Linked DNA regions of Homo sapiens. The protein of the gene in region 2 purifies or fractionates together with the protein of the main gene of each other region. This does not show direct contact. Each region holds a gene or a part of one and is shown on either strand. Other genes may lie near its edges.

Region 1 (8,379 bases), on a different chromosome or scaffold from region 2:
GTGTTAATATACAATATTTAAATGAAATTGTTACAAATTCGTCTTTTGTAAACTGGCTTATAAAGGGCAGAATTATCCCTATGCTGCTTTGTCTAGTTTTTGGTAGTTGGTACACAAAAGAATGCTTTCAAATTATTTATTTATTTATTTATTTATTTTGAGACGGAGTCTCACTCTGTTGCCCAGGCTGGAGTGCAGTGGCACGATCTCAGCTCACTGCAACCTCCACCTCCTGGGTTCAAGCGATTCTCCTGCCTCAGTCTCCCGAGTAGTTGGGACTACAGGTGCGTGCCACCACGCCTGGCTAATTTTTTGTATTTTTAGTAGAGATGGGGTTTCACCGTGTTAGCTAGGATGGTCTCGATCTCCTGACCTCGTGATCTGCCCGCCTCGGCCTCCCAAAGTGCTGGGATTACAGGTGTGAGCCACCACGCCCAGCCCCCAAACTATTCTTAAACTTAAATATCAGATTAAAAAATCATTCAACTGAAATTTCAGAATAGCTAATAACTTATCATGATATGGCCAGGTGCGGTGGCCCACGCCTGAAATCCTAGCACTTCGGGTAGTCGAGGCAGGCAGACCACTTGAGATCAGGAGTTCAAAACCAGCCTGGCCAACATGGTGAAACCTCGTCTCTACTAAAAATACAAAAAAAAAGCTGGGCATGGTGGCATGTGCCTGTAATCCCAGTTACCAGAGAGGCTGAGGCAGGAGAATTGCTGGAACCCAGGAGGCAGAGGCTGCAGGGAGCCGAGATCACGCCCCTGTACTCCAGCCTGGGCAACAGAGCGAGATTCCGTCTCAAAAAAAAACAAAAACAAAACCAACTTATCATAATACAGACATTTAGGACATTTATGCCAATGGGGTATTTCCAACAGTCTAAATAAAGGGGAGGAGGGTATGGAACAAAATTTTCAAGAAAACTCAAATTCACCTGAAAAAGCTCATAACTCTAGATAAAGTATTAGGAGTCACCACAAAAGCAAAACAGTAATATATCGTAACTCTAGTCAACCAGGGCCTAAGCTATAACTGAAAAAAAATTAAAGCACGAGCCGTTTTTCTTAAAGGCTCAAATCTTCTAAGTACAGTTTTTAAAAATTTTGGGAAATTGGGGGAGGGGGATGTAGACTGTAAAAGAACTATTTTCACATAAGTTTAATCTAAGTATCTTAAGTTTCTAATAGAAGAATTAATACAAGGCTGGGCACAGTGGCTCATGTCTGTAACGTAATCCAACCAGGCTTTGAGAGGCCACTGTGTTTACTGGGTAACACAGTGAGACCCCACCTCTACGAAAAATAAAAAAAATTAGCCAGGTGTGGCAGAGCGTGCCTGTAGTCCCAGCTACTTGGGACGTGGGAGGCTGAGGAAAGATGATCGCTTGAGCCCAGGAGGTCCAGGCTGCAGTGAGGTATAATCATGCCACTGCATCCAGCCTGGGCAACAGAGGGAGACCCTGTCTCAAAAAAATAAGTAACTCTAAATTTAAAGCAGCAAGATATTTACAATTTGCAATGATTGATCTGATTTCGCTAAGCAACCCAAACATACATTTTCACTCTTTATCTAAAACGTTTTAAAAATAAGGTTCTTACCAAATCCTTTGTTGAAAATATCTCTGGCAGCTTTGCCAAGGTCAGCATATGATGGAGGAATACACATTGCTGGTAGAAAAAAAACATTCCAGTGTTAATGTCTCTATTCTCCCACCTTCTATCCAAGAACAAGAGCATGACCCACTGCTGATATTAAAATTCAAGCAATCCCATTTGTTGGAATGTTTTTTATGCGGTCAGGAGCTACAATAGAACTATAACGACCCATAAAGGAGATACCACCAACGAATTATTTCTAAAACAGATAACCATGATTATACAAACTTGGGGAATTCGTTTCAAAACGGAAAAACAGTCTATTACCTACAGCCTCACTTCCTAGGACTGGACAAGTACAAAGAATCAAACAAGTATTTGTGTGTATGGATATTTATGTATCTGCCAAAATTCACTGAGATGAGCTGATTTAACTAAATTAGATAAAACCGAAACCTAAGACTAGGCCCTTTACCCTGATACGTCCTTTAATATCTTCGCTGAGGGGAAAACCAACACCCTGGAGTGGGAAGAGAATTTAATACTGGGAATTTAAATATTGAAACTTGGAAAAAATACTGCCATGTGTGTTTCACTCAAATGTCTACATCAACTAAATATCAAATAGCGCTTCAAACTTACTAATGTGACTCTCAAGTCCTCGGCCAATGCTGTGCTGCTTAAGGGCAGGCAATCTGAGCTCATTACACCAGCTCATTCATTCCACAAAGCACGTCCACGCCCTTAGGAGCACAAGTAATGACCTTGCGCTCTCACAAGAGGGACTGCTACTTCCTCTAGAAAAGTGATTGATCCGATCCTCCAAAGGCAGAATCCCCAATTAACAACTTTTTACTTCTATACGTCAAAGACATGTACAAAGGCTGAAAAGTCCATGCGGCCACAGACCAACTCCCCGGGCCTTGTTCCCCATTTGAAATCCAGCAGCCCAGCCCCTCCTCCGCAGAGGAGGTGGTCAGACGGTGGGGCGACCACCAAAAGCAGCCGAATTTCCAAGTTCTTGGAAAGATAGGGGGAAACAAACTGGGTTTCTGGTCGACAGGCTTCGACTCTCCGCCGCCCCATCCCGCAGAGATCCCAGCTTTACTTACGACGCGCGCAAGTCTGTCCGTGGGTCGCCATGGCGAGGCCGCGGGAAGAGGGGAATCTGCGGGAGGGACAAGAAGTGCGGTAAGCTGGGGTCAAAGGGCCAAAGGGAGATCCCGGGCAGAGAGGGGCGAGGGGCCGCGGGGCAGCGCGGCCATCTTAGGAAGCCAGGGCCGACTCCGAGTCCGGCGCGGGCCTCCGGCTTGGCCGCCGCGGCCTAGGCCCCTGGGTCGGCGTGAGGCGGGCGCGGCGGTACCTGGTGGTGTCCTGAGGGGGGCCGCCGCCACCGCTCCGCTAGCTGCTGAAGCCGCTTGGCACGCTCGCGGTCGGGCTGCAGCTCCAGCAGCTGGAGGGCGAAGTGAAGGAGACACCGTTCCGCCCGCCGCAACCCTGTCCTCTCCCAGACAGGACCCCGCCGCTGCCCCCGGGGCTGTCCGCCGCGCCTGTCCCTGCAGCGCAGCCCGCTGCCAACTCCAACCTGCTCCAGAGCGGCCACGTGGACCGACAGCGCCCCGGTCCTGCAGGTGGGCTGCCTCCGTCCGTCGGTGGGGATCCGGAAGGCAGAAGCTGCTGGGCCTTGGATCAGGCAGCTATCCGGGCAGCCTCAGAGGCGAGGGGGCGGGGAACGGCGGAGGCAGCGCGCTGGGGACCGCCTGGGAGGGGGATGGGGCGGAGGCCCCGCGCGAACGCGTCACGGACGGGGCGGGGCGTCGGCGCGTGGCCGGGGCGATAGGGCGCGGCTGCGCACCAGGGTCACGTAGATCTCTCCTACTCCCCTTACGCGCTGGTGCGGGTTCCCCCCCGAAACAAAGCCCTGCATAGGGTGCCTGCGGGGAGTCAGCTGAGCGTTACCCACGTCCATCCTAAGCTAGCGCAGCCTGCGCTTCTGAGGGACCGCTTCTCTTTCCCAGCCCAGGGAGAACGAGTGGGACACAGGGGCGCCACCTCCAGCCCCTCGCGCTCTTCTGCCCTCTTTTCCCACCTTGGTGTGACTGCCTTGCTGTGCTGGGTTGTGTGCCTGAGAGGCTTTTTGGGACTGCCTCTCCCTGAACAAATGTGAGCGGGTCCTAGCGTGCCCCACCCATTTCCACGCCGCCTTACGCTTTCTCTTCCGCGGCTCCTCCCCACTCAGGCATGGCACTGCTTCACACACGCACGGAGCCGGAGCTTGGCGAGGCAAGCCTGCTCCGGGCCCAACCTCCTCTGGATTATGGGCCTGGAGAAAATGTGGAATCATGCTGAGCAGGCGTTAGAATGCCGCACCCGAGTTCCCCGGGTGTGCAGGAAGGGTGACAGAGCTATTAGATAAAATGTATATGGGAGACCGTTAGTTTAGACTGACCTCCTGCATTAGGCCCATCAGACCAAACCAAAATGGGGTTACTCATGCTGAAGTTTCACACTACCACGCCAAAGCTAGGATCTTTATCTGACCTTCCAAGAAATCAGGAGAGAAACAGATGCTAGCCAGATCCCCAAACAGGCTGGGCGCGGTGGCTCACACCTGTAATACCAGCACTTTTGGATGCCGAGGTGGGCGGATCGCCTGAGCTCAGGAGTTCCGGACCAGCCTAGGCATAGTAATACCCTGCCTCTACCAAAAAAAAAAAAAAAAAAAAAAAAAATAGCCGGGCGTGGTGGCTGGCGCCTGTAGTCCCAGCTAATTGGGAGGCTGAGGAGGGAGGATCGCTTGAGCCTGGGAGGTTGAGGCTGTAGTAAGCTTAGATGGTGCCACTACTGCACTCCAGCCTGCCCGCTGGAGTAAGACCCTGTCTCAAAACAAAAATCCCCAAACAGGTCAGTTTTAGCTGGCATGAAGAAGTCCCGTGTTCTTTAACCTTTACAAGAAAAGTAACTTTCTACCAACTAATCCACTTTTTGTTTCTGCTTTCCTCGGTCCTTTTCTGTCTGTAATACCAACTTCCTCTTCTCATTGGAACATTCATTCCATTTTACAGAATGAAGCGTTGCCCAATTGTAGAATTGGAACTAAAAGCCAGTTAAGATGTTTAAACTAAATTCTTTGTAATTTTTTCTTTTAACAGAGCCAAAGGAAAAAGAAAAAATGAGCAGTCTAATGAAATAGAAATGGGTTCAACTGGAACTCCCAAAGCAGTCATCTATCCAATAATGTCGCCGGTAGACCTCAGTGGTTTTTTTGGGTTTTCTTCTTTTTTTTTTGAGACGGAGTCTCGCTCTGTCGCCCAGACTGGAGTGCAGTGGCGCGATCTCGGCTCACTGCAATCTCCACCTTCCGGGTTCACGCCATTCTCCTGCCTCAGCCTCCCGAGTAGCTGAGACCACAGGTGCCTGCCACCACGCCCGGCTAATTTTTTGTATTTTTAGTAGAGTCGGGGTTTCACCATGTTAGCCAGGATGGTCTCGATCTCCTGACCTCGTGATCTGCCAGTCTCGGCCTCCCAAAGTGCTGGGATTACAGGTGTGAGCCACCGCGCTCGGCCTACCTCATTTTTTTAATCTATAAAATGACAAATGAAACGAAGTGATCTTTAATAGCCATCAGCCATAGTCTCTGAGCAAAGCCTTTTCCCCCTTGACTTTCTCTGGCTCTGAAAGCCATGTCTGCTCAAATGCTCTCAACGTTCTACCCTCCTCCTAAACCAGAAAAGGATAGGCTTCCACAGTTCAAAACCCAGATGAAAGCTGCAGCCTGGAAGATTTCCCTCCCATGAGCAAGCCCAGCCAGCTGTCTTGCCTGGTCATGACTGGGCTTACTCATGTTGCAAAAGGTTAGCAGAATTTACTTCTAAGACATCAGGCACCAGAAGCCCTCATTCATTCCTTCATTCGAGCTCAGACAGGTCGGTTTGCAGTCATCCTGGCTCTTCTGGGAAATAGTCTGGTATGTTTGATGTTATTGTGAGGCTAACAACAAAGACCGGCATTTCCATCCCAACTGCACCACAGCACCCTACCTCCCCGAAACACCCAGTCTGATAAATGAGTCACCTCCACTACCTGCAGCAGGGCTTATTCACAATGTGAATTTTCTGTAGCAATTTGTAGCCCCCTGCACTTCACTTTCTCTGTGGCTTCACCTTCTGCAAACCCAAGGAATGTACACAATACCTAATGACCAGGGGAAGAAGATCTGTGGCTAAACAGGGGAATAATGGCAGTTTTTTCCAGAGCTGAATTTAGTAAATAAATATGAGTGCTTACATCCAAAGTCCTTTAGACCAAAGCGGCATTAGTAGGTAGTTACTACCTACCACAAGCAACTACTTTGTGTCATCCACAGGGTAAGCAAAGTCCACTGAGACACAGTCCCTACTCTCAAGGCACTTAACAGTCAAGTGTGTGTAAAGATGTCAAGAACAGGGGAGGGTCCAAAAGTTTACCCTACTTGCAAACTATCAAGTTAGTCTGCCATAGTTTCAGAGGCTCACAGATGCTAGCAGAAGACATGAGACGTATGGGTCAAGGACAAAAGACTCTCTTACTTGTGGCCCAGCAGGCAGTGTAAGCTTCGTGTTTTGCCTCAATTCCCCCTGTCCTCTGTGTCCCTCAAGGATGATGCCAGAGCAGCTTAGGTGGATGCTGTGCACAGCATGCATTCGTGTCACAGCCAAGGAACCCTAAGCTTACAAAACCACGTGTCTTAGAAGGAGCTGCTAACAAATCTGCCCAACCTTCATACTGTGAAAGGAAAATATCTTGGGCCCCCAAGATCATTAAGCTAAAGGGAAAAGTCAAGCTGGGAACTGCTTAGGGCAAACCTGCCTCCCATTCTGTTCAAAGTCATCCTTCCGCTCACTGAGATAAATGCGTATCTGATTGCCTCCTTTGGAGAGGCTAATCAGAAACTCATTGCAACCATTTGTCTCTCACCTACTTGTGACCTGGAAGCCCTCTCCCCACTTCGAGTTGTCCCGCCCTTCCTGACCACTTTAAGTTGTCCTGCCTTTCTTGACCGAACCAATGTTTATTTTACATATGTTGATTGATGTCTTACGTTTCTCTAAAATGTATAAAACCAAGCTGTGCTCTGACCACCTTGGTTACATGTCGTCAAGACCTCCTGAGGCTGTGTCAAGGCTAAGTGTCCTCGACCTCGGCAAAATAAACTTTCTTTTTTTTCTCTTTTTGAGACTGAGTTTCGCTCTTACCACCCAGGCTGGAGTGCAATGGTGTGATCTCTGCTCACTGCAACCTCTGCCTCCTGGATTCAAGCGATTCTTCAGCCTCAGCCTCCTGAGTAGCTGGGATTACAGGAGCGCCACCACCACGCCCGGCTAATTTTTGTAATTTTACCACACTAAAGAGATGGCTGCTTTACTGTGTTGGCCAGGCTGCTCTCAAACTCCTGACCTCAGGTGATCCGCCCACCTCGGTCTCCCGAAGTGCTAGGATTACAGGCGTGAGCCACGGCGCCAGGTTTTTTTTTTTTTGCTTTTTGTTTTTTTTTTTTGAGACAGAGGAGATAGAGTTTCGCTCTTTCGCCCACACTGCCACACTGGAGTGAAGTGGCACAATCTCAGCTCAATGCAACCTCCGTCTCCCAGGTTCAAGCGATTCTCCTGCTTCAGCCTCCCAAGTAGCTGGGATTACAGACACCTGCCATCACACCCGGCTGATTTCTGTATTTTTAGTAGAGATGGGGTTTCACCATGTTGGCCAGGCTGCTCTCGAACTCCTGACCTCAGGTGATCCACCCACATTGGCCTCCCAAAGTTCTAGGATTATAAGCATGAGCTACTATGCCTGACCTGGCAAAATAAACTTTCTAAATTCTCAAATTTAAATTCTAAATTCTGAAATTTCTCAAATTTTCGGGGTTCACAATCCCTGAGGGGGAGATTATTATACTGCTCAGGAAATAAAATCTTTTCTCTGCCCCAGAGAGAGATACTATCTTCCAAGGCTGTTTGCTAAGTAAACATCCTTGGAAAGATAGTCTGAGACAAAAGCTGCCATAAGATGGGTAGAAACACCATGGAGAATTGGCCCCAACAAAGGATGGGGTATGGGAAAGACAAGCTCAAGATGTCACAAGTACAGTATTTTTGTGGGGAGCAGGGTCTTGCTGTGTTGCCCAGGCTGGTCTTGAACTCCTGACGTCAAGCAATCCTCCCATTTCAGCCTCCCAAGTAGCTGGATCACAAGTGTGAGCCACCACACTCGGCTCCTGCAAGTACAGTTCTAAGATGTAAATACAGAGAACCTTGAGCACAGTCAGATGGAGGAGCTACTTGCACTAAAGTTTGAAAGCAGGACTTACCAAAATTAGAAAGCCAACAGGTGGAGGCTGGGAAGGCAAAATTCTAGAAAGAGGATGTGCAAAATCATAGGAGTGCTTGAAGTGGCAAGAATTGTTTGGAAACCACATATGATTTTTTTGCTTTTGATTTGTTTTTGTTTTTGTTTGAGACACAGTCCCGCTCTGTCACCCAGGCTGGAGTACAGTGGCACAATCTTGGCTCACTGCAACCTCCGCCTCCCGAGTTCAAGTGATTCTCCCGCCTCAGCTTCCTGAGTAGCTGGGACTACAGGCACGTGCCACCATACCCGGCTAATTTTTGTATTTTTAGTAGAGACAGGGTTTCGCCATATTGGCCAGGCTGGTCTCAAACTCCTGACCTCAGGTGATCTGCCTGCCTCGGCCTCCCAAAGTGCTGAGATTACAGGTGTGAGCTACTGCGCCCAGCCA
Region 2 (7,604 bases):
GTTAATTCTGTAATATCCTACTAAAGGAGGACTTTCCTATCTTTAGAATAATGCCATACATGCATTTGTCTCAGGTACAGAAGTTTAATGCAAGAAAAAAAATGTTCATACCTACAGTAAGTTTTGCAAATTCATTTGGAAAATTCTTCTCTAACCATTGTCTACATTTAGCAACATCAGGCATATATTCACAGTACTAGGAGAAAAAAAAAGAACTGAGTCACAACAAAACATTTTCAGTCAAACAATATGTCGTAATTAAAAATCACCCCCTATACTTGTTAATACAAAGAATAAAACAAACCACTCCCATCTGACTTCTTATCCACAGGAAATCTGTATTCAACCACGATATGTCCCATAAAAAATTAGATATTAAGAAGGATTAGGTACCTCTTCACAGTACCAATTTATTTCTTCTCCCTCTATTTCTTGCTTTGAGCACATAAGTGCCTCATTTTCATGACTTGCTCATAGAGCTGGACTTAGAAAGTCTTACACATAATTTATACTGCCCTTTCTTTCCTCTGCTCATTTGTATAGATTTTGGCATTAAGGTTACTCTTATTTTATTAGCTGACTATTCATAAGTCCCATGCAAAAATCCAAACTGCACAGCCATGTGCAAAAGATGCACATGTATGATTTAAGGTCTAAATTTAGGAAAGAATATATAAGACCAAAAAATTACTCTAAATCAAAGTTCTCTATAAAAGGTTAAAGCTTTACTATCAAATAATCAAAAATGAAAAATAAAAAAAAATTCTCAAGGTAGCTTTAAAACCAAGAATAACTTCAAATACATAAGGTAAAAAAAAAAATTAAAGAACTTACCTCTGTTGGTAATGAACAGACTGAGGAAGTAAAAAGAAAAAAGATTTGAAATGTTAAACCTATATGTACACACATACACAGGGCTTATCCTTACTTTTATATTTGAGAAAATGCTTCATTTTTACATTTTCCCTATAAGTTTTCTATACCACTTTTCAAATGCTACTCTTCAGTGTTTTTGGGGTAAAAGGCACATGGTTATTTGAGATGATACTATCTTGACTTTTTCATCTAAAGAGTGTCTCCATCAGCTGATGGAACATCAAAATATGCTATTTTGTATATAATGAGGTCTTACCATAACCATTTCAGTGGGTCAAAAAATTAAGCTAAGACACGAACAATTTCCCATACATCAGAGTTTGAAGGAAACTGGTTATTTCTTTTCTTTTGAGACACGGTCTCACTCTGTTGCCCAGGCTGGGGTGCAGTGGTGCAATCATGGCTCAATGCAGCCTCCACCCCTCCAGGGGCTCAAATGATCCTCCCACCTCAGTCTCCCAACTAAATGGGACTACAGATGCACACCACCATGCCCAGCTAATTTTTTGTAGAGACAAGGTTTCACCATGTTGCCCAGGCTAGTCTCAAACTTCTGGGCTTAAGCGATCTACCTATCTTAGCTTCCCAAAGTGCTGGGATCACAGGCGTGAAGCACTGTTCCCAGCCTGGTTATTTCTTTTGATGGTTCTACCAAAACAGCCACCACTTTTTATTCATACTGACACATTTATAAACTTTAGCAGCATTTTTACTACCATCTTTTTGCAATATATTTTTCCTTTTTTTTTTTCTGAGACAGAGTCTTGCTCTTTCTGCCAGGCTGGAGTGCAGAGGCACGATCTCGGCTCACTGCAACTTCTGTCTCCTGGGCTCAAGAAATTCTCCTGCCTCAGCCTCCCAAGTAGCTGGGATTACAGGCGTGTGCCACCACGCCCGGCTAATTTTTGTATTTTTAGTAGAGACGGGGTTTCACCATGTTGGCCAGACTGGTCTCAAACTCCTGACCTCAGGTAATCCGTCCGCCTCAGCCTCCCAAAGTGCTGGGATTACAGGCATGAGCCACCGCACCTGGCCTATTTTTTTTAGAGTAAGGGTCTCACTCTCACTCTGTCACTCAGGCTGGAGTGTAGTGGTGTGTCCATGGCTCACTGCAGCCTCGAACTCCTCAGCTCAAGTAATCCTCCCGCTTCAGCCTCCCAAGTAGCTGGGACTATAAGCGTGAGCCACTATGTACAGGTAAGTTTTTTATTTTTGTAGAGACGGGATCTCGCTATGTTGCCAAGGCTTTTTCATGTTATGCTACATAAGATCATGAAAGTGTAAAGCTAGAAGGAATCTTGGTTCAATCCTGTCATTTGGTGTTAGAGCCTGTACAGGCTAATAATGGACTAGAAGAACTGGAAAAGCTTCCAATTTTAACCGTAATTCTAATACTGGGTCAACTGCTTATTTTGTTTTTATTTATTTATTTTTGAGACGGAGTCTTGCTCTTTCACCCAGGCCGGACTGCAGTAGCACTATCTCGGCTCACTGCAAGCTCCGCCTCCCGGGTTCACGCCATTCTCCTGCCTCAGTCTCCAGAGTAGCTGGGACTACAGGTGCCCGCCACCGCGCCCGGCTAATTTTTTGTATTTTTAGTAAAGACGGGGTTTCACAGTATTAGCTAGGATGGTCTCGATCTCCTGACCTTGTGATCCGCCCGCCTCAGCCTCCCAAAGTGCTGGGATTACAGGAGTGAGCCACCGCGCCCGGCCTTTTGTTTTTATGTTTAAGGTTTAGAATGGAGTAGTTCAGTGTGTCCAATATCCTGAGATTTCTCAGGGAGAGGAAGGTGGTATACCATGTAGTCACAGCAATTACTACACACTGGGCACCTAGTATGTGCCAAATGTTTTGCTATGCCTTATATACATTATTATGTTTAGTTATCACAACCTTGTAAGATAAGTACCATATCTATATTCAGATGATGAAACTGAGGCTTAGAGTACATAACCACTTGCATCTGGATAACAGGATTTGAATCTGCCTGTTTCTGACGCTCATGCTATTAACCACTAACTTAGGTTACACAAAGTAAACAAGCAACTTAGTGGCACCTGACAGCTGAAAATGATCTGCCTTCACCTCACCCTACTAACATTCTAACATGCTACCACACAATCACTATTTTACAGATGGGGCACTAAAAGAGTTAAACAGCTCATACAATGACAAAGGTGGTATGTGGCAGAAGAAAACTGGAATCCATTGGTTTTGTCCAGTCTAGTCTATTATAGTTTAGGGTTATTTCCACCAAAGATCTCTCTGGTTAGCTACAGCCCTATATTCCTCACAATTCAAGTTCAAATACTAGGCATAGTTGTTCAGCCACACTTTCAGGATATAACTATACAATTATTGGTTAAACACCATCACAGCAAATACTAAAGCTACAAATTTTGTATACTATTTCAAATAATATTTAGTTCAGAAAAAAAAAAAAATTGGGGTTTTGCTCTGTTGCCCAGGCTGGAGTGCAATGGCACCATCTCAGCTGGCTGCAACCTCTACCTCCTGGGTCCAAGTGATTCTCGTAGCTCAGCCTCCCGAGTAGCTGGGATTACAGGTGTGCACCACCACACCCAGCTAATTTTTGTATTTTTAGTAGAGACAGGGTTTTGCCATGTTGGCCAGGCTGGTCTTGAACTCCTGGCCTCAAGTGATCTGCCTGCCTTGGCCTCAGCCTCCCAAAGTGCTGTGATTACAGGTGTGAGCCACTGTGCCTGGCCCGGTTCAGCAAAATTCTAATGCAATAAAAAAATTGGGGGAGCTCCTTTAAGTTCACCATTATTTGCTTTAAAAAAGTCAATTTCTCTTTACAGATCACTTACTTATTTGGAAAGGGAAAACTGTACCTTTTCAATGCAAACATTTAGCCGTCACCTTCAAACTTAGCATCACTAATAGTGAAACATCTGACATTATGAGCTCTTGATGCAATGCAACATGATGAATGAAACATCATCCACGAAACTTTCTTGCCAAAATCTGTTTAACTTGAATCTAATTAAGCCTCTAGGCCGGGTGTGGTGGCTCACGTCTACAATCCCAGCACTTTGGGAGGCCGAGGTGGTGGATCACCTGAGGTCAGGAGTTCAAGACCAGCCTGGCCAACATGGTGAAACCCCATCTCTACTAAAAATACAAAAATTAGCCGGGTGTGGTGGCGCACACCTGTAGTCCCAGCTACTCAGAAGGCTGAGGCAGGAGAATCGCTTGATCCTGGGACGCAGAGGCTGCAGTGAGCTGAGACTGCCACTGCACTCCAGCCTGGGCAACAGGGCAAGACTCCAACTCAAAAAAAAAATAAATAAATAAAAAATTAAGCCTCTAGACTCCAGCTTCTTTTTTTTTGTTAAAGAGACAGTCTCACTTTGTCACCCAGGCTATAGTGCAGTGATGTGATCTTAACTCATGCAGCCTTGAACTCCTGGGCTTAAGTGTTCCTTCCACTACAGCCTCCGAGTAGCTGGAACTACAGGCACTTGCCACCACACCTGGCTAATTTATTTAATTTTTTGTAGAGGCAGGGTCTCACTATGTTGCCCAGGCTGGTCTCAAACTCCTGAGCTCAGATGATCTGCCTGCCTCGGCCTCCCAAAGTGTTGGAATTAAAGGTGTGAGCCACTGTGCCTGGCCAAATGAGCAAAGTTACCACCACATGGAAACATGGAATGGGACTAATCCACAGCCAGGTACCTCTTGATAAAATGCACTGAAATTAACAGCACTTCTGTGGTGGTCTTGGCACAAGATCATAAACTAAATCTAGTCTTAAGAACACATCAGAATGGCCGGGTCTGGTGGCTCACGCCTGTAATCCCAACACTTTGGGAGGCCGAGGCGGGTGGATCACAAGGTCAGGAGTTCAAGACCAGCCTGGCCAAGATGGTGAAACCTCATCTCTACTAAAAATACAAAAATCAGCCAGGCACGGTGGCAGGCGCCTGTAATCTCCGCTACTCGGGAGGCTGAACCAGGAGAATCACTTGAACCCTGGAGGCGGAGGTTGCAGTGAGCCGAGATCACGCCATTACACTCCAGTCTGGGCAACAGAGTGAGACTCCTTCTGAAAAACAAACAAACAAAAACTGCCTTTCTATAACAGAGAATGAACAGCCACAATCAGCTTCCTGAAAGTCAATATTTTCAATTACAAATTTCGCTGTCAACAGTCACCAAAATCACTAACTTTGCACACAGTGTCACTAAGCCTCAATCATCTCATACTTTAAAGTCTTCTAAATTTGGGGAGGAGGGTGGAAAAGATTAAAATAAAAATAAAGTCTCCTAAACTTGATTTCTGTGGCCAGTTTCAACCCATTTCAGGCACTTCCTCCTTCCTTCCAAACAGTTATTATCCAAAAAGATATAACCAATCACATCACTTCCCAGATTAAGAACTTTTCAAACATCTTATCGTACTTCTCCAGACTCAACTCCTACCAGCCCATGGTCCAACCACAATGAACTTCTATCCATGCCATTCTTTTCAGCAAACACCTATTCATCCTTCAAGACTCTGCTAAGTTTCCTTGAAGCTGATGTTATAATGGCTTGTCTTGGATTTTAATCCTGGCCCCACCACTTATACAATTGAGAAGCTTATCATCAATAAAACTGTAATATTTCAATTTTGAAGATTAAATATACAAACATAAAATCCACTCAATACTTTAACTTTCCCTTTTTTCAGTTCTCCCAAGTAGAACTGGTTGGTTCTTTATTCTCACTGCAGTCTGCTCACCCCTCTAGTATACAATTAGTACATTATAACTCACCTGTTAAAATGTTTGTCTTCCCAGTTAAGCTCAGTTTCCAGGAGATAATTATGTCTTATTTCTGTATATGGAGCACAATGCTTGCCACAGAGCAGATGCTTAAAACGTGTTTCCTAAATGAATTTGAGCTGCTCTCTGAAACCCCAGACTTTAGCTGAGAGCAAATTCTCTAATTTGCATCCTTCTTTTTGCAAAAGGGGAAAGGGAGGGAGGGGGAAGGAATGATAAGAAAAATGCCTATGTCACTATCGCTTCTATTTTTCTCTTTAATCAGTTGGGTATTCTATTGGAGGGTTTTCCCTCTTCTCTAAGCACTCCAGCAATACTAAATGTCTGTCAAAACTACATCCAGTTTATTTCTCCCATCTCCCTTGTCCTCAAATCTGATTAACTGCTTTATACTGTTCATCCTACCATAATTTATTTTTCAACCTCTCTTCCTCACTTATGCCACTCATTTAAATGCTCATTAATTTTGTCTAAAGTCTTATTATAGCCTGGCCAATAAGCCTGCCTCCCTCAATTGTTATCTTGCTGCCAGATTCATCTTCATGTAACTTCACTGCTCCAAAACTTTCAATGACTTACAATTATCTACAAATCAGGTGCCCCAGAACTTGGCCCCAAACCACGTTGCCATAATTTCCGGCTGCCCCTCTTCATGAATTCCACAATACAACCAAACTGTAACACTCGAAACTCCCTCCACACTACCCACTATTAAATACTTTCCTACCTCCACTCCTTTGCCTGGCAAGTCCAACCTTCAGCCCTTCTGTGCCTGCCTGAATGCAACCTTTCCTTCAAATCCCCATTTGGCTGTGGTTGCCTCTATGAAGTCTTCCCCTAATTTCCTACAAATCTCTCCCCTCCTGTACTGACACTGCAGCTATTAGTCCTTAATCTTTATTTCTTGTCTCTTTCTTCTTTTTTTTCTGGGATGGAGTTTTGCTCTCAAAGGCTGAGTGCAGTGGCACGATCTTGGCTCACTGCAATCTCCGCCTCCCAGGTTTAAGCGATTCTCCTGCCTCAGCCTCCCGAGTAGCTGGGATTACAGGCGCCTGCCACTATGCCCAGCTAATTTTTGTATTTTTAGTAGAGACAGGGTTTCACCATGTTGGCCAGGCTGGTCTTGAACTCCTGACCTCAGCTGATCCACCCACCTTGGCCTCCCAAAGTGCTTGGATTACAGGTGTGAGCCACCGCGCCTGGCCTATTTCTTGTCTCTTTCTTTCAGCATTCATCATCTTCCCTGTTAAGTTATATGTAGACAGACAGGGCCTCTGCCAATTTATATGCCTCCACAGAACTTAGCCGAGGACCTTATACATCAGAGATACTAGGTAAAAATTGTTTATAGTCTTTGTAAATTGTTGATTATGATGTGGACTCTATTAACAATGTCATCATACCTTCTTACCAAGCTGGCTAACAAAATCCACTACTTTTACAAAATGGTAATGTTAGAAATTAAAAGGTACAGTCTAATCCCATCTCCACTACTAGTTTCTTCAATTAAGCATAAGAATGTTTTTACATTAAGTGGAAGCCTGTACTGTTCTGGAGAGTGTTGACAAGGTAGAAAGGCACCTTTCAGTAGTTTCCACTTTAGTCCTAGTTCACTGACCCTCTGAGGTCACAGGGAATAGATCTTATCCTTTACTCACATAGGTTTCCAAATTTAAAGAGTTGTTTCACAGGTAATCATTATATAAAAATATAATAGGAATCTATATTCTGAGCATCTTGTTAAAATAAATGTATCAGTTTTTCTCACATCCTTAGTTTTGTTTTTTATTTTTGAGATGGGGTCTCGCACTGTTGCCCGGGTGGGAGTGCAATGGCGTGATCTCGGCTCACTGCAACCTCTGCCTCCCGGGTTCAAGTGATTCTCCTGCCTCAGCCTCCCAAGTAGCTGGGATTACAGGTGCCTGCCACCAGGCC
Region 3 (7,604 bases), on a different chromosome or scaffold from region 2:
CAGTTGAAAGACTCTTGTCAATTGCAGACAAAAGAATACATGAAGTGGAGGGAAGGAGAAAATTATTCTGAATTCAACCTGAAATAAAATCTTGCTACATTAGTGAAGTATTGTAAAGTACTTTGAGTTAAACTTTGCATGCAAGAAGCCACAAAATTGGATTGAAGCAAGTTGTGAAACATACTAAGTGTCTAGAAATGTATTCTGATATGGAATTTTTAGACCATGGAAATTGCCATGAGTGTAGAAAATTTATATTAGCTCACAGATTGCTTTTCTTAAACTGAAATTAATGAAGAACTTAATTAAGACTTATCTTCTATATCCTCTCACCCCCCTCAAACAAAATACTAAACATAATTTATGTTCTAGGGTTTCAAGTAAACATTTTTGCTAATCATCTGATTTTCTTTCACAGCATATTTCATTTTCTGTCATTGGACTTTGAGCCATTAGAACCATGAGCAACTACAGTGTGTCACTGGTTGGCCCAGCTCCTTGGGGTTTCCGGCTGCAGGGCGGTAAGGATTTCAACATGCCTCTGACAATCTCTAGTGTAAGTAAACTTTACAAATTTTATTATAGATGTTCATTCAGTGCTTAGTCCTCGGGCTGAGTTGTTTAATTCTCTGTTGACCTGTACTCTACTTATTATCATTGCTCCTGGGATTTGATCTTGGCAAATTTGATTATCTATAATAAAGGATGAGGGGAGTAGATTTAGCAAGGATAACTGACTTCAATTTAACTTCTTTTCGTTTTCCCCCATGTTATCAATAATAAAATGGAAAAAGCATTTAACTAGGAACAGACTGTACATTTTTGAACTGTCCCTAATTTGGGGAATTCTCTGAATCTTCGTTCTTTCATATATAATTTTCAAAGGTTGTGCTATGGGATTTTAATAATCTCTTTCAGTTCCAAAAGCTGTTTGTTAAAAACTGTTGATCAAAATTGAATAAAATGATTGTTTCGGAATTATTTCCTCAGCTCACTTTCTGGTGGAGGTGATAGCCAACAGTAAGATGGCCAAAAGCTACTTACCCTTGAAGAGGAAATGAAGGGCTTGGAGCTCCAACTAGATAGCCTATGAATAATTGAGATTTGGCTTTTTACCTCATTATGGATTTAGTTTGAATGTATTCTGTGTATATATTTTAAGGATATGTTTTCATGATGATGATGATAGCACTGATGAGAGGAGTAATTAAAGCTTCTATTTATTGAGACTTGACTATATGTCAGGTACTGTTTCACTTTCATCACCAGTAGGTAATTATTACTATTATATAAGTTTCTAAAAGGTTTGTTTTTGCATATTCAAATAAATATGAATTTCCATCTTCTTTTACTCAAATGGTGGCATATTATACACACAGTTTTTTTTGAGACAGAGTTTTGTTCTTGTTGCCCAGGCTGGAGTGCAGTGGCGCAATCTCGGCTCACCACAACCTCCATCTCCCGAGTTCAAGCGATTCTCCTGCCTCAGCCTCCCGAGTAGCTGGGATTACAGGCATGTGCCACCACGCCTGGCTAATTTTGTATTTTTAGTAGAGACCAAGTTTCCCTATGTTGGTCAGGCTGGTCTTGAACTCCCGACCTCAGGTGATCTGCCCACCTCGGCCTCCCAAAGTGCTAAGATTACAGGCGTGAGCCACCGTGCCTGGCCCACACTGTTTTATACTTTGCTTTTTTTTGCAACAATTTACCCTGAGATCATTCTCTATTAATATATAAGGAGGTATGTGTGTTTTTTTAAAACAATTGTATAATTTTATTTTATAAGGAAAGTGACATTTAACCAATCCCCTACTGAAGAGTATTTGTGGCATTTCCATATTACTGTTACAGTGGTACAGTGAATACCAAATATAAGTACATACATATATATGTGAATATATGTATCTACGTCATTTTGAAAGGTTGTGCCAATTTACACTTTTGTGCAACGCATGAAAATACTATTTTTGTGCCAGTCTTACCAACAAACTTGGATATTTATCAAGTGCTGTGAATGCATCATCTCATTTAATTATCATACCAACATGCAAAATAGTGATATTATTCCCATTGTATATAACTGTGCTGTGCGCTCACATGACTGTATGGAAGAGCTGGCTTTCCAACAGTTATGCTGTGCTGCCTCTTTAATAATTCACTTTACCTTAAATTTAGTTAGTTGTTTCTTTAATCAGATATTTAGAAGATTGTCATTTTGGTTAATAATATATGTGTATGTATAAATATATATACACACACATACTCTGCATCTTGTATGTGTATCCAACTTCATTTTGAAAGATTAAAAATAAGTTTGTAACGCCTAAATATCCTTATTAAAATACTGCAAATCCCATTTTACTAACGGAGTCTCCTTTGTTTCTTGGCTGTGGATTTTTTTAAAGTTATCTTTAATTTATCATCAATTTCTGCCTTGATTTCAGTTAATTAGATTTTATAAGGAAGTATATATATGTAATCCAGCCTGCAAGTTTTAACACCTTTCATGGTTAGATGAAATTTTAAATGTAAAGCATCCATGTGAAAATGTGTCATGTGATTTATTCCTGTTTGAGTGAGTTGGTATTTTATTTCTTCTACTGATGATCTATTATGGGAACAGGAGCAATCTTTGAGTATTATTGGTTTTTACGTTTTGTTAGCATTTTATATTTTAAATATTCTACTTTAATTATCTAAAGAAAGTTATTAGTTTAAATGCTTACTTTTTTGCTGAAAAAAAGTTCAGAAACAAATTGACACCTAAATGAGCCAAACTTAATTATCACTTTGTTGTGTGGTAATAGAAATGCAAATAGAGTATGTTTGCGAATTTTGTGGTACCGTGTCTTTAAAAAAGTTTCATGTGCTTCAGTTTCCTGGCAGACAGTTTGAGGTACTAGCTCCATGTTGTGATGCTGATACAACAGAACACTGTGTACATACATATGTGCCCTCCCCTGGCACAGAAGAAATGCTTTCCTTGTGTAGACAGAGTGCTAATTAAAGGATTTTGAACATACTGATTAAAAGAGACTATGGTAACAAAGCTGCTGAGTTATTTCTGTTCTCTTACAAAAGTCTCTGCCATCTACTGTGACCTTTTTGGGCCTTGTGCAGTGGGGCATGCAATTCATTCTGGACTGGAGAGGATTGGAAGGGGAGGGGAAGGAGAGAAGGGAATGTTGGCTCAATCGGGCTGCTAGGCTCTTGGCCTTTCATTGTAGTTATTTTTAACCCCTTGTGTGGTTTAAATATGCCTAGTAACATTGCCTAATAAAGGTTTGCGTTTAATAACTAATTTATATTGTGGTAAGATTGTTAATGTTATAAATTTTTAACTTACTCTCATCTTAATTAGTTCTTTGGTTATACTTTTTCTGCCTTAATTATGTAAAATTACTGGGATATTACTGGTCATCAGGTTCTTTAATTAATAGTATCAAGAAACAATTAAAACCTGAAAGCATGCTTAAAACATGTAATTTAATGATTCACTTACTTTAATAATGCACATGAAATTCTTAGCAAGGTCTGGCAGTCTCTCAATTATCTTTTATAATAATATTATAAACTTTAAAAAGAAAACTATTTAGAGACTTGAAACATTAAATATTTAACCCCCGTAGTTGTAGGGAACATACAGTTATGGTTTTGTTTTGTTTTTTTAAACTTATTGTCCACTGAAATTAAGAAAGGAAAAAAAATCAGAAGTTTGTACTTAGCTGGGAATCTGCATCTTTAGAGTTCAAAACTGTGCAATTTTTCCTCTGATTAGGTATTATTATGTTGAACTCCAAAGGGTCATTTACATTCCTTTATAACACTGGAGCTCTGGTGTATCGAATTGTGTTATGAGATAAGCCACTAGCAGGGACTTGAACATTCCATTTTCTTTAGATTTTGTTGTATCAGCATGTGAATATGCTGAATACAACTTGTATCCTAAAGCATACAAGCTATAACATTTTCACGTTGGACTCAAATTTCTTCATCATCTGTATTGTATGAATTTTGTATACTGTTTTGTTGGTGGATTTCTAACATAAGATTGCCAGTTCCTGCTAGCTTTTTAAAAAGATCCTCAGGTTGCTGTAGCTGGATGATCACATGTCATTTAATTTCCGATCCTTAAAATGGAGTGCGGGCTACCTAAGTTTGCAGGCTGTCTTTTTATGATCCTGTGTTTATGGAATTGCCCTGAAGCCATGGAATGTGAGGATGGGTTTCATTGTAGCAGTGTGGGTTTGTTGGTTTTTGCCAGTATATTTTATAACAAGAAATAGGAGACTTGTTGGATAATTCAAGGCTATATTTTGGCCAGTTGATAAAGATTATATATTTGTGAGTAACATCTTTTAAGTTGTTATATCCTAAAGTTGAAATACTCTGCTGTGTGTTACTTTCTCATTATGTTTGGGCTCTTTTCTTCACTGTCAATATTTGGATTACCTGAAGATGATATCCCAATTCTCTGTAAACACATTTTAGATGTTTCTTTAAGAGATAAGAATTAGGTCAAACTTTTTAACATCTAAATAACAATGACTTTGATTCTCAAGAGTTAGGGGAGGATAAATTGTTATAAGCTTGGACAAAATTCTAATTGGATTTGAAAAGCAGAAGAAACTTACTATTGCTTGGATTATGGAGCCCTGTTTGGGAGTCTAACACAGAACAGAGAAGGACAGAATTGTGAAACACTTTGCTATGAATTCATTGATTCAGTAGTTATAGTAATACTTCCTAGAAGCCACTGAAGAAGATACAAAGTGGGGAGTACAAAGGTTGGATGGAAAAGAAATAAGCACAGTGCTATAGAACTAGACAGTGTCGTAAGACCTGTCACAAGTCAATATTCTATGAAATGACAGATTCTGATAAGTGTTTCTCAGTTTCAGTGGGTGTAAATCTTTTGTTTGTGGGGGTTGGTTTCCTTTAGGAGAAGTTAATTGAACTGATCCTCAAAGGATGAAATTTAAACACCTCAAAGTCAGCATTTCTCCGTGTTGTCCAGTGCCTAGTGAAGATGAAGACTTTTCTTGCCATTGCTTGACTCCAAGTAAAGCTGTGAATGTAGTTGAGCGATTCTCCAGACCTGCCAGCTGCAGTTTCCCTCCTACCGGAAGACAGAAAGACTTTCAGTCCTCAAGCTGAAATGAGAGAGCCATCCTACCTTGAATAAATGGGCCCATTGTTAATTTTAAGCTCTTGAGTATTTTCTTTTATATTCCCTCCAAGCTACCCTGTCATTATGCCAAGTTAGAAAATTAATTTAGTTTGTATAACTATATGATGTATATTTCACATGTGTGTTCACTCTGCTTTAAAAATATTAATTACCTTTTGTGTGAAGTTCAGAGACCTGTCTTTTCCCATGTGGCAGTTTTATATGTTTTGTGGTCACAAATGTCAGGAATCTCAATGTAATTCTGGATAAATTTTTCTGCTCTATGATTTGTAAAGAAATGAAAATCTTATATTTTTTAATTGAAAATTAGTAGTTTTAGAAAAAAACGCACTTATTTGATTTTAGTAAACGTTGGGCATTTTGAAAAGTTATTCAGAGAAATGTTACTGGTAGGCAGGACTTTTGTATCTGATGGAGGAAACCGATGTAGGGTTTGGATAAAATAAGACTAGCAGGCTGGGCACAGTGGCTCACTCCTGTAGTCTCAGCATTTTGGGAGGACAAGGTGGGAGGATCACTTGATACCAAGAGTTCAAGGTTACAGTGGGCTGTAGTCATGCCACTGTACTCCAGTCTGTGCCACAGAACCAGACCCTGTCTCAAAAAAAAAAAAGAAAAAAAAAAAGGTAAGAATAGCACTTTAGACCTTGGGAAAGAACGTTTTCATGTAACTATTCATCTACTCGTGAGTTAGGTATATCTACCTACTTAAACTAAGAATAGATAGATAATAGATAATGTACAGCTGTATATTGGAATGACTTGGATTTAAATCTTAGCTGGAAAATCAGTTCATTAATTTGAGCTTCTGATTTTCTTTGATGTATGGGAAATGCTTTATAAATTAAAAAGTATACAGGTAGATTTGATTATTATTAATAATTTGGAGCCTGTGAGCTTTCAATTTTTTTTAGAACTTCTGAGGCAAAGAGCTTTTCTTTATGATAGTTGCTAGTCACACTACATGTGAATACACAGTTGAACAGTGGTCTTTGTCTATGACATCCTGTTAGCAGTAGTTCTTACCCAGATTCCCATATACCACAGGACCAGTTATATCTTTTTCCCCCAGTTACAACTGTATTGAGGACAAATCAGTTATGATTTAGTTATTTCTAGAAGCAAACGTTGCTTTAGACAAAAAAGGAGTTATTTAGCATCGTATGAGAGAGAATTATGTTTCAACTTTGGCAGATGAGACTCTAGGCCTTTATTTCAGTATCTGAGATGCAAAAAATATTGAGTACGTGACATAAAATTTGACAAAACTAGATATTAGCATGTGAAATAACAATATGTGGATCTGTTTGCAAATAAATGACCTAATGGAAATGAAAAGAGAAAACATTAAGTAACTAAAGAGCAGTGACCATGGTGTCTACTGATTCTTTAGGTATTCTATGTGTTGGGCCACTATATAGTCTTGTTGAGAAGGCAGGTTTGGTTCCTTAATTAACAGAGAGGGAAAAATCACTTTTCTAGCGTACTTTGTTTTTATTAAGAGGTTTTTTTTTTAAAGGTAATAAACTAAGAATGGACAAAGCAGAGAATATTGAATGAGTATCCCCTTATTCCTTCACCTTTCTTATTTTTTTGTTTCCTGTTTAAGTATAGTTATCTACCCTTCTGTAAATACTCAGATTTCTTTTATAGCTGATGTTGTCACCCATTTTTTATGACAATTACTAGAACAGAGTTCACCAACCTTGTTGGCATTTAGTAACTGGACTCCCAACTGGGCTAAGCAGTTGTAGTAAATGTCCCTAATAGGCGTAAATAGAGGAGAGTAAAATGAACTGGAAATGTTAATAGGAGGGAATGAGAAAGAAAAAGTTAGATGAGAGAAAAAAATAAAGAGGACTTTTTAAAAGGCTGCAGCGTGTCACCCAGGCGGGAGTGCAGTGGCGCGATCTCGGCTCACTGCAACCTCCACCTCCTGGGTTCAAGCAGTTCTCTGCCTCAGCCTCTTGAGTAGCTGGGATTACAAGCATTCGCCACCATGCCCAGCTAATTTTTTTGTATTTGTGGTAGAGACAGAGTTTCACCATGTTGGCCAGTCTGGTCTCGAACTCCTGACCTTTGATCCAGCCACCTCAGCCTCCCAAAGTGCTGGGATTACAGGCGTGAGCCACTGCACCCAGCTTAATTTTCTTTAGGTAAGACATTCATATGGTTCAAAATTCAAAAGATACACGAGCGTATAGGGGGAAATGTCTCCTGGTGCCCTGCTGTTCATTTCCTCCTCCTGGAAGCCACCTGTGTTAGTAGTATACTTCCAGAGATAATCTATAGGTATATCTCCTCCCCACCCTCCTTTTAACACAAATAGTATGCTTAATAGAAATACTTTTTTTTTTGGCATTTTGTTCACTTAACCCAACATCAGTAAATATATCTTCATTCTTCATTCCTT
Region 4 (7,894 bases), on a different chromosome or scaffold from region 2:
AGGCTGGAGTGCAGTGGCGCGATCTCGGCTCATTGCAAGCTCCGCCTCCCAGGTTCGCACCATTCTCCTGCCTCAGCCTCCCGAGTAGCTGGGACTACAGGCGCCCGCCACCACGCCCAGATAATTTTTTTGTATTTTTAGTAGAGATGGGGTTTCACCGTGTTAGCCAGGATGGTCTGGATCTCCTGACCTCATGATCGGCCTGCCTCGGCCTCCCAAAGTGCTCGGATTACAGGCTTGAGCCACCACACCCGGCCGAAGTTCACAAGTTCAGTAACTTTATTTGGCAAATAAATATCTTTTTTTTTTTTTGAGACAGGGTCTCACTTTGTCTCCTAAGCTGGAGTGCAGTGGCGCAGTCACAGCTCACTGCTGCCTCAACCTCCTGGGCTTAAGTGATCCTCCCAACTCAGCCTCCTGAGTAGCTAGGACTACGGTGTGCACCAATACGCCTGGCTATTTTTTTTTCTTCCTTTTTGTAGAGATGGGGTTTTACCATGTTGCGCAGGCTGGAATAAGTACTTTCAAAGGGTCCTTTAATGACAAAACTATAGAGGTAGAGAACAGGTTAGAGGTTGCCAAGGAACAGGGAATGAGGGGTCTCTGAGGGACACGGGGATCTCAGTGACAATGGGACAGCTATGTCCTGTCACAGTGGTCCAGGAATTTACACACTTTATGAAACTGTCACATAGCCTCCTTGCCCCAGTGCAGGGGGAAACTGGGGAGCCCTGAGCCAGGCCTGCAGTCTATAACAGCATCAGCACCACAGCAGTGCCCACTTCCCGGTGTGGATGCCATGCCATGGTCACATGAGATGTCACCATGGGGGACAGTGGTTGAAGGGTTCACAGGACTGTATGGGCTGATTTTGCAACTTCTGTGCATCTATACCCATTTCAACATGACAAGTTAAGAAAAAGCCTGTTGTGCATCTATACTCATTTCAACATGACATCTGGCACAGTGCTAACACAGGTCTGCCAGAATGCACTGAATGAGGCACTGAAAACAGCCCATTTCGTCCTGTAAAATCACCCCTGGATAAAGTCAGCTTTTAGCAAATGGCTTTTACAAAATTAAAACAAAACCAAGGCCCATTGGGGCAAAAATGGGTTTCAGGGTCCAGGGATCCTTAAACTGAATGCAAAATGGGGAGGATCACATTGTGGGAAGAGCATTCACAGCTTTGATTCTATTTCCAGAGGCCTGTGCCTCCCTCCCACAAGGAGTTAAGAACCTTCACTTCACAAACTACAGATCACAAACCCAACAGACTATTTTACAACTATATAACATTTATGAACATATACTATCAATGAATGTATTTTTTTGTTAATATTCATTAAAAAAAAATGTCACAACTTGGGTTTAGAAGATTTTTTTTTTTTTTTTTTTGAGACGGAGTTTTGCTCTGTCGCCCAGGCTGGAGTGCAGTGGTGTGATCTTGGCTCACTGCAACCTCCGCCTTCTGGGTTCAGCAATTCTCCTGCCTCAGCCTCCCAAGTAGCTGGGATTACAAGCATGCAACACCGCACCCAGCTAATTTTTGTATTTTTAGTAGAGACGGGGTTTCACCATGTTGGTCAGGCTGGTCTCGAACTCCTGACCTCGTGATCCACCTGCCTCAACCTCCCAAAGTGCTGGGATTACAGGCGTGAGCCACCTCGCTGGGCCAGAAGTTTTCTTAAAAAACAATACAAAACAAAACCAGAAACCCAGGACTCCCCAGCCCTCCTGTGGGTGTGGGTTTAGGAAAATCCATCTTTATTGGCCCTGCACTGCCAAGTGTAATGGACCTGACACTCCGCACCAGCTCTGCCCTAACTGGTGAGGGCCAGTAAGGAACAATACAGATGAGCGCTCTGTCCACCAGGCAAACTGCAAATTATTCTCAGTGCTAAGAAGGGAAAAAACTGAGCAGCAGAAAAATGTGTAGCCCCTTTTCTGGAGCTTTCTTTCTTATGAAGAGAGGTCTGGACTACAACGGGGGGGCTGTGTGTGTGAGGGATTCACAGCTCTAGCTTTGGATCTCCCAAAGAGGGGTCCGGAGCAGACTGTGGCACCCCAAGCCAGTCACTGAATCCCCATATTTTATGGTTAAGCAGCCAAACATGCCAATTCACTCTCTAGGCTCTGCTAGATAAACAATGCCCTTACTCAGTTACCAAAGAGGAATTAAAGCCTGTTTCTCAAGTCACCATGAGAAAGCAGAAAAGAGAGGAAGTCACTTCCGTATTAGGTGCTCGCAGCATTCATCCATGAAGCGTTTCATGATTTTCTTAAAAAATATTACTTGTTCTCAACAAAACATAGACACAAGGCTCGTCTACTCTGCACTGCAGAGGACAGAAGAGCTAAGTATTAATAAATAATCCTTCTTTGTATTTTCCAAGTTCTCTCCAATGTAAACAACTCAAGCCCAGGAAAATCCAGTATTTAACAGTGTACCAACCCTGTGCTTTCATGGGCACCGGCTTTTACCCACCCGGTGCGTCTGGCGGTGGCTGTCCAGCAGGCCGGGCACCTGCCGCCCACGGAGTTGTCCCACTGGGCACCGCAGGGCTCAAGGGCGATGGCAGCACTGGCAGCTTCTGGTCAGAGCTAGCTGATGTCCCCGCTCTGCAGACATCAGCCCAACAAAATTGCATCTCGCTGACCACAAACTGGCCACGTGGAAGTCAGCTCGAAGCTCTACCCTGAATCTCTCCTGAACTCAAAGGCTCTGAAAGCTGCCTCGACCCATGAAGGTGCACAGAGGGGCTCCCGCGGGCTGCCCACAGCCCGTCCCGGGTGCGGGGTCTGAGGGCGCAGCCGACCCCACCCTGGGCGGAGGGCGAGGCTGGGGCTCCGGCTTCGTGCCCCACGGCTCGCAAGGACCCGTCAGTACCGCCCGCACCGCTGACCCCAGCACCGAGCCCCTCACGGCTGACCCCAGCTCCTCACGGCTGCCCCCGGCCCTGCTCCCTCACGGCCGACCCGGGCCCCGTTCCCCTCACGGTCGCCGCTGGCCCTGCGCCTCTCACGGCCGACCCGGGCCCCGCTCCCCTCACGGCTGTCCCTGGCCCCAACATCCGGCACCTGCGCTCATTCCTCCCGGAACGAGCCGCCCGGGGCACCGCCACCCGGTCCGCGTCCCGGAACGGGAGACCCGGGGAAATCGGGGCGCCGGGGCCTCTGGAGGGCGCTTGCGCCGCGCCCGGGCTCCGCGCCGTCCTCACCGTGGAAGTCGCCCGTGTCGGCCACCACGGTGGTGAACTGCTTGAGCTGGTCCAGCGCGGACTCCATCCTCTGACGCTTCACGGGTGAGCTCGACATAGCAAGACCGAGGGGTCTGCGGCGGCGGCGGCGGCGACGGGACGGGCGCGCGGACGGCCCACAATGCCCCGCGGGCGGCTGCCAATCGGAAAGCGGCGCGGGAGGGCGAGGCCCGCTGGTCCCTGCGCGCCTGGACGAAGCCCCGCCCCCGGGGACGAAGCCCGAGCGCCACTGCCGGCCGCGCACCGCAGCTGCGGATCCTACAGGCTGGGTCTCCCCAGGTCCTCAGCAGCCGCCGCGGACGGGCCCGGGAAAACACCTGCACGACACGGGGCGGCTGGGCCTCGCCTCCTTCCTGCCCCGCGGGACGCACCGGGAGGGCTGGAGGAGATGGACCTGGCCCGGGTGCCGACTCTGCGGGGCTGAACCCGCCAGGGCCGAACCCGGCGATGCAGGATCCATGGTGGGGCCAGGACTGGGGTCGGGGGCCGCTGCAGGAAGCAGGGGAGGGAGCGGCGGGGGACGCCCTGCGGGTGCAGGAGGCAGAGCAGGGGGCGGCTGCAGAGCCCGGGCGCCGGACGCGGCGGGGAACCTGCTTCTGGGAATCTGTTCCCCTGAGTCCTAAGCCCAGAGGTGTCCGGGGGACCGAACGGCGAGGCAGGCGTAGGAGGCCCAGCTGCCCTGCTTCTTACCATCGCTGACTTGCAGAGTTCCTTGTATATTCTGATCAAGTCTCTGTCGCTTGTGTCTGCGTTGCAGACACTGTAACCGCCCCATGGGTTCGCCTTGCCAGCTGCCGGGACAGAGTCTATTGTCAAGACAGGGGAATTGCAATAGAGAAAGCATAATTCACACAGAGCCGATTGTTCGGGAGACCAGAGTTTTATTCCTCAAATCAGTCTCCCCAAAACTCGGGGATCCCAGTATTTAAGAATAATTTGGTGGGTAGGGGGCCAGTGAGTCAGAAGTGCTGACTGGTCAGCTAGGGATGAAATCACAGGGAGTCGAAGCTGTCCGCTTATGCTGAGTCAGTCCCTGGGTAGAGGCCACACAACTGGTTGGCAGGTCCAGGTGGGGCCATCCGGTTGTCAGAAATGCAAAAACCTGAAAAGACTTTTTTTTTTTTTTGAGACGGAATCTCGCCCTTGTTGCCCAGGCTGGAGTGCAGTGGCGCGATCTTGGCTAACTACAACCTCCGCCTCCCGGGTTCGAGCGATTTTCCTGCCTCAGCCTCCCGAGTAGCTGGAATTACAGGCGCTCACCACCACGCCCGGCTAATTTTTGTATTTTTAGTACAGACGGGGTTTCATCATGTTGGCCAGCATGGTCTCGATCTCCTGACCTCGTGATCCGCCCACCTCAGTCTCCCAAAGTGCTGGGATTCCAGGCGTGAGCCACCGCGCCCGGCGGAAAAGACTTCTTAAAAGGCAAATCCTAGGCTGACGCGGTGGCTCAGGCCTGGAATCCCAGCACATTGAAAGGCCAAAGCAGGCGATCACTTGAGGTCAGGAGTTGGAGACCAGCGTGGCCAACATGCAAAACCCCGTCTCTACTAAAAATACAAAATTAGCCAGGCGTGGTGGCACATGGCTGTAATCCCAGCTACTTGGGAGGCTGAGGCAGGAGAATGGCTTGAACCTGGGAGGTGGAGGTTGCAGTGAGCCGAGATTGTCCCTCTGTACACTAACCTGGGCTACAGAACGAGACTCCATTTAAAAAAAAAAAAAAGGCCAACCCTAGGTTCACAGTAGTGTTGATATCTTGGGGAAGTTGCAAATCTTATCTTATGACCTCCAGAATAATGGCTGATAATATTTAGACTTCCAGCCCCTCTCATTCTAACTTGGTGGCTGGTGGCCTTTCATTCATTTTACAAGAACAGTCTAGTTTTGGGGAAGGGCTATTATTTAAACTATAAATTAAATTCCTTCCCAAGACTTGTTTGGCCTATGGCCAGTAATGGACAAGGACCGTTTGAAGGTTAGAAACAAGATGGAATTGGTTAAGTCTGTTATCTTTCACTGTCATAATTTCCTTAGTTATAATTTTGCAAAGGTGGTTTCAATACTTCCTCTCAGCATGTGTTCCCTTTTCATTTTAATAGTGTCTTTAATGAACGTTAGCTTTTTATTTTGATTAAGTTCAATTTATCAAGTTTTAATTTTATATTTACTCCTCTTTTTTGGTATCTTCTCTAAGGAGTCTTTGCTTGCTCCAAAGTGACAAATTTTTTTTTTTTTCTGGTGAGATGGAGATTTACTCTTGTTGCCCAGGCTGGAGTGCAATGGCGCGATCTCAGCTCACCGCATCCTCCGCCTCCCAGGTTCAAGCGATTCTCCTGCCTCAGCCTCCCGAGTAGCTGGGATTACAGGCATGGGCCACCATGCCCGGCTACTTTTGTATTTTTAGTAGAGACGGGGTTTCACCGTGTTGCCCAGGCTGATCTCAAACTCCTGACCTCGTGTTCCACCTGCCTCGGCCTCCCAAAGTGCTGGGATTACAGGTGTTAAGCAACTGCGCCCGGCCAACGCCCAGCTAACTTTTGTATTTTTAGTAGAGACAGAGTTTCACCGTGTTAGCCAGGATGGTCTCAATCTCCTGACCTCGTGATCCGCCCACCCTAGTCTCCCAAAGTGCTGGGATTATAGGCGTGAGTCACCACGCCCAGCCAACAAAAATATTTTTTTTTTTTTTTTTTTTTGAGACGGAGTCTCGCTGTCGCCCAGGCTGGAGTGCAGTGGCGCAATCTCGGCTCACTGCAGGCTCCGCCCCCTGGGGTTCACGCCATTCTCCTGCCTCAGCCTCCCGAGTAGCTGGGATTACAGGCACCCGCCACCTCGCCCGGCTAAATTTTTTGTATTTTTAGTAGAGACGGGGTTTCATCGTGTTAGCCAGGATGGTCTCGATCTCCTGACCTCGTGATCCGCCCGCCTCGGCCTCCCAAAGTGCTGGGATTACAGGCGTGAGCCACCGCGCCCGGCCTCAAAAATATTTTCTTATGATGTCTTGGTTTTCAGCTGTTATGTTAAGAGTCTTTGAGGCCACTCCAGTTTGTTTGTTTTTTTTTTGTTGTTTTTTTTTTTTTGAGACGGAGTCTCCCTCTGTCGCCCAGGCTGGAGTGCAGTGGCACGATCTCGGCTCACTGCAAGCTCCGCCTCCCAGGTTCATGACATTGTCTTGCCTCAGCCTCCCGAGTAGCTGGGACTACAGGCGCCCACTACCACGCCCGGCTAATTTTTTGTATTTTTAGTAGAGACGGGGTTTCACATGAGCCACCGCACAGGGCCCCCTTGATTTTTGTCTCTGTGACCTAGAAGTGGAAGGTAGTTTTTCTCTACCGCGCCTGGCCCCCTTTATTTTTGTCTCCGTGACCTGGATATGGAAAGTAGTTTTTCTCCACCTGTTCCAGCATCTGTTGAGAGGACTTTCTTCTCTCCATTGAAATGCAAAAATAGGAAATATACATCACAGAAGAAGGTATAGAGCAGGTAGCCATCTTTTGTCTTCCCTTGCCACACTGGAAGAACTGTCTTGGGCCACATGTAAAATATACTAACAATAACTGATGAGCTTAAAAAAAATTGCAAATAAAAAATCTCATGTTCTAAGAAAGGTTGCGAATTCGTGTTGGGCCACATGCGGCCTGCAGGCCAAGGGCTGGACAAGCTTGGTGGTATACAGTATTTATTAGGGAAATGCAAATGAAAACCACCATGAGATCTGTCCACATGGATCATAGTGAGAACAAAAGACTGGCAACACCAAGTGCCAGTGAGGACATGGAGCTCCAGGAACACCCATGCGCTGCTGGTGGGAATGAAAGTGGAACAAAGGCTGGGTACGGTGGCTCGCGCCTGTAATCCCAGCACTTTGGGAGGTCGAGACAGGTGATCACCTGTGGTCAGGAGTTCGAGACCAGCCTGGCCAACATGGTGAAACCCCGTCTTTACTAAAAATACAAAAATTAGGCTGGGTGCAGTGGCTCACGCCTGTAATCGCAGCTCTTTGGGAGGCCGGGGCAGGCAGATCACGAGGTCAGGAGATCGAGACTATCCTGGCTAACACAGTGAAACCCTGTCTCTACTAAATATACAAAAAATTAGCCGGGCATGGTGGCAGGTGCCTGTAGTCCCAGCTACTCGGGAGGCTGAGGCAGGAGAATGGCATGAACCTGAGAGGCAGAGCTTGCAGTGAGCCGAGATCGCGCCACTGCACTCCAGCCTGGGCGACAGAGCGAGACTCCATCTCAAAAAAAAAAAAAAAAAAAAAAAAAAAATTAGCCAGGCATCGTGGCATGTGCCTGTAGTCCCAGCTACTAGGGAAGCTGAGGCAGGAGGATTGCTTGAACCTGGGGGGCGGAGGTTGCAGTGAGCCAAGATTGCGCTACTGCACTCCAGCCTGGGCAACAGAGCGAGACTCCACCTCAAAAAAAAAAAAGAAAGAAAAAAGAAAGTGGAACAAAATGAGCTGTGGAAAATTGTCCTATGGTTTCTCATAAACTTAAGCATGTACTTACCATGGGAACTGGCAGTTCCACTCCTCAATAAAAAGTTCTCCACAAGAAGATTGGCACACAGATCCTCATAGTGGCTTTATTGACAAAAGGTCCAAACTGGAAACAACCCAAATGTCCATC

Evidence for each region.
Region 1: the proteins of DENR (region 2) and VDAC2 purify together in Homo sapiens (affinity purification with mass spectrometry; 2 studies listed by BioGRID and IntAct, with this or other methods). This does not show direct contact.
Region 3: the proteins of DENR (region 2) and PDLIM5 purify together in Homo sapiens (affinity purification with mass spectrometry; 2 studies listed by BioGRID and IntAct, with this or other methods). This does not show direct contact.
Region 4: the proteins of DENR (region 2) and TALDO1 purify together in Homo sapiens (affinity purification with mass spectrometry; 2 studies listed by BioGRID and IntAct, with this or other methods). This does not show direct contact.

What each region holds. Positions count from the first base shown.
Region 1 is NC_000010.11:75,205,524-75,213,902, reverse strand, and holds the start of VDAC2 (non-selective voltage-gated ion channel VDAC2), read right to left. Parts: upstream 3,108-8,379; 5' UTR 2,965-3,107; intron 2,770-2,964; 5' UTR 2,745-2,769; coding exon 2,714-2,744; intron 2,422-2,713; exon of another isoform or gene 2,320-2,421; coding exon of another isoform or gene 2,244-2,319; intron 1,674-2,243; coding exon 1,605-1,673; intron 1-1,604. UniProt on the Homo sapiens protein: Non-selective voltage-gated ion channel that mediates the transport of anions and cations through the mitochondrion outer membrane and plasma membrane.
Region 2 is NC_000012.12:122,755,437-122,763,040, reverse strand, and holds part of DENR (density-regulated protein), read right to left. Parts: intron 855-7,604; coding exon 835-854; intron 197-834; coding exon 112-196; intron 1-111. UniProt on the Homo sapiens protein: Translation regulator forming a complex with MCTS1 to promote translation reinitiation.
Region 3 is NC_000004.12:94,454,829-94,462,432, forward strand, and holds part of PDLIM5 (PDZ and LIM domain protein 5), read left to right. Parts: intron 1-418; 5' UTR 419-460; coding exon 461-556; intron 557-990; exon of another isoform or gene 991-1,415; coding exon of another isoform or gene 1,416-1,730; exon of another isoform or gene 1,731-2,356; intron 2,357-7,604. UniProt on the Homo sapiens protein: May play an important role in the heart development by scaffolding PKC to the Z-disk region. May play a role in the regulation of cardiomyocyte expansion. Isoforms lacking the LIM domains may negatively modulate the scaffolding activity of isoform 1.
Region 4 is NC_000011.10:742,906-750,799, reverse strand, and holds the start of TALDO1 (transaldolase), read right to left. Parts: upstream 3,337-7,894; 5' UTR 3,319-3,336; coding exon 3,222-3,318; intron 1-3,221. UniProt on the Homo sapiens protein: Catalyzes the rate-limiting step of the non-oxidative phase in the pentose phosphate pathway. Catalyzes the reversible conversion of sedheptulose-7-phosphate and D-glyceraldehyde 3-phosphate into erythrose-4-phosphate and beta-D-fructose 6-phosphate.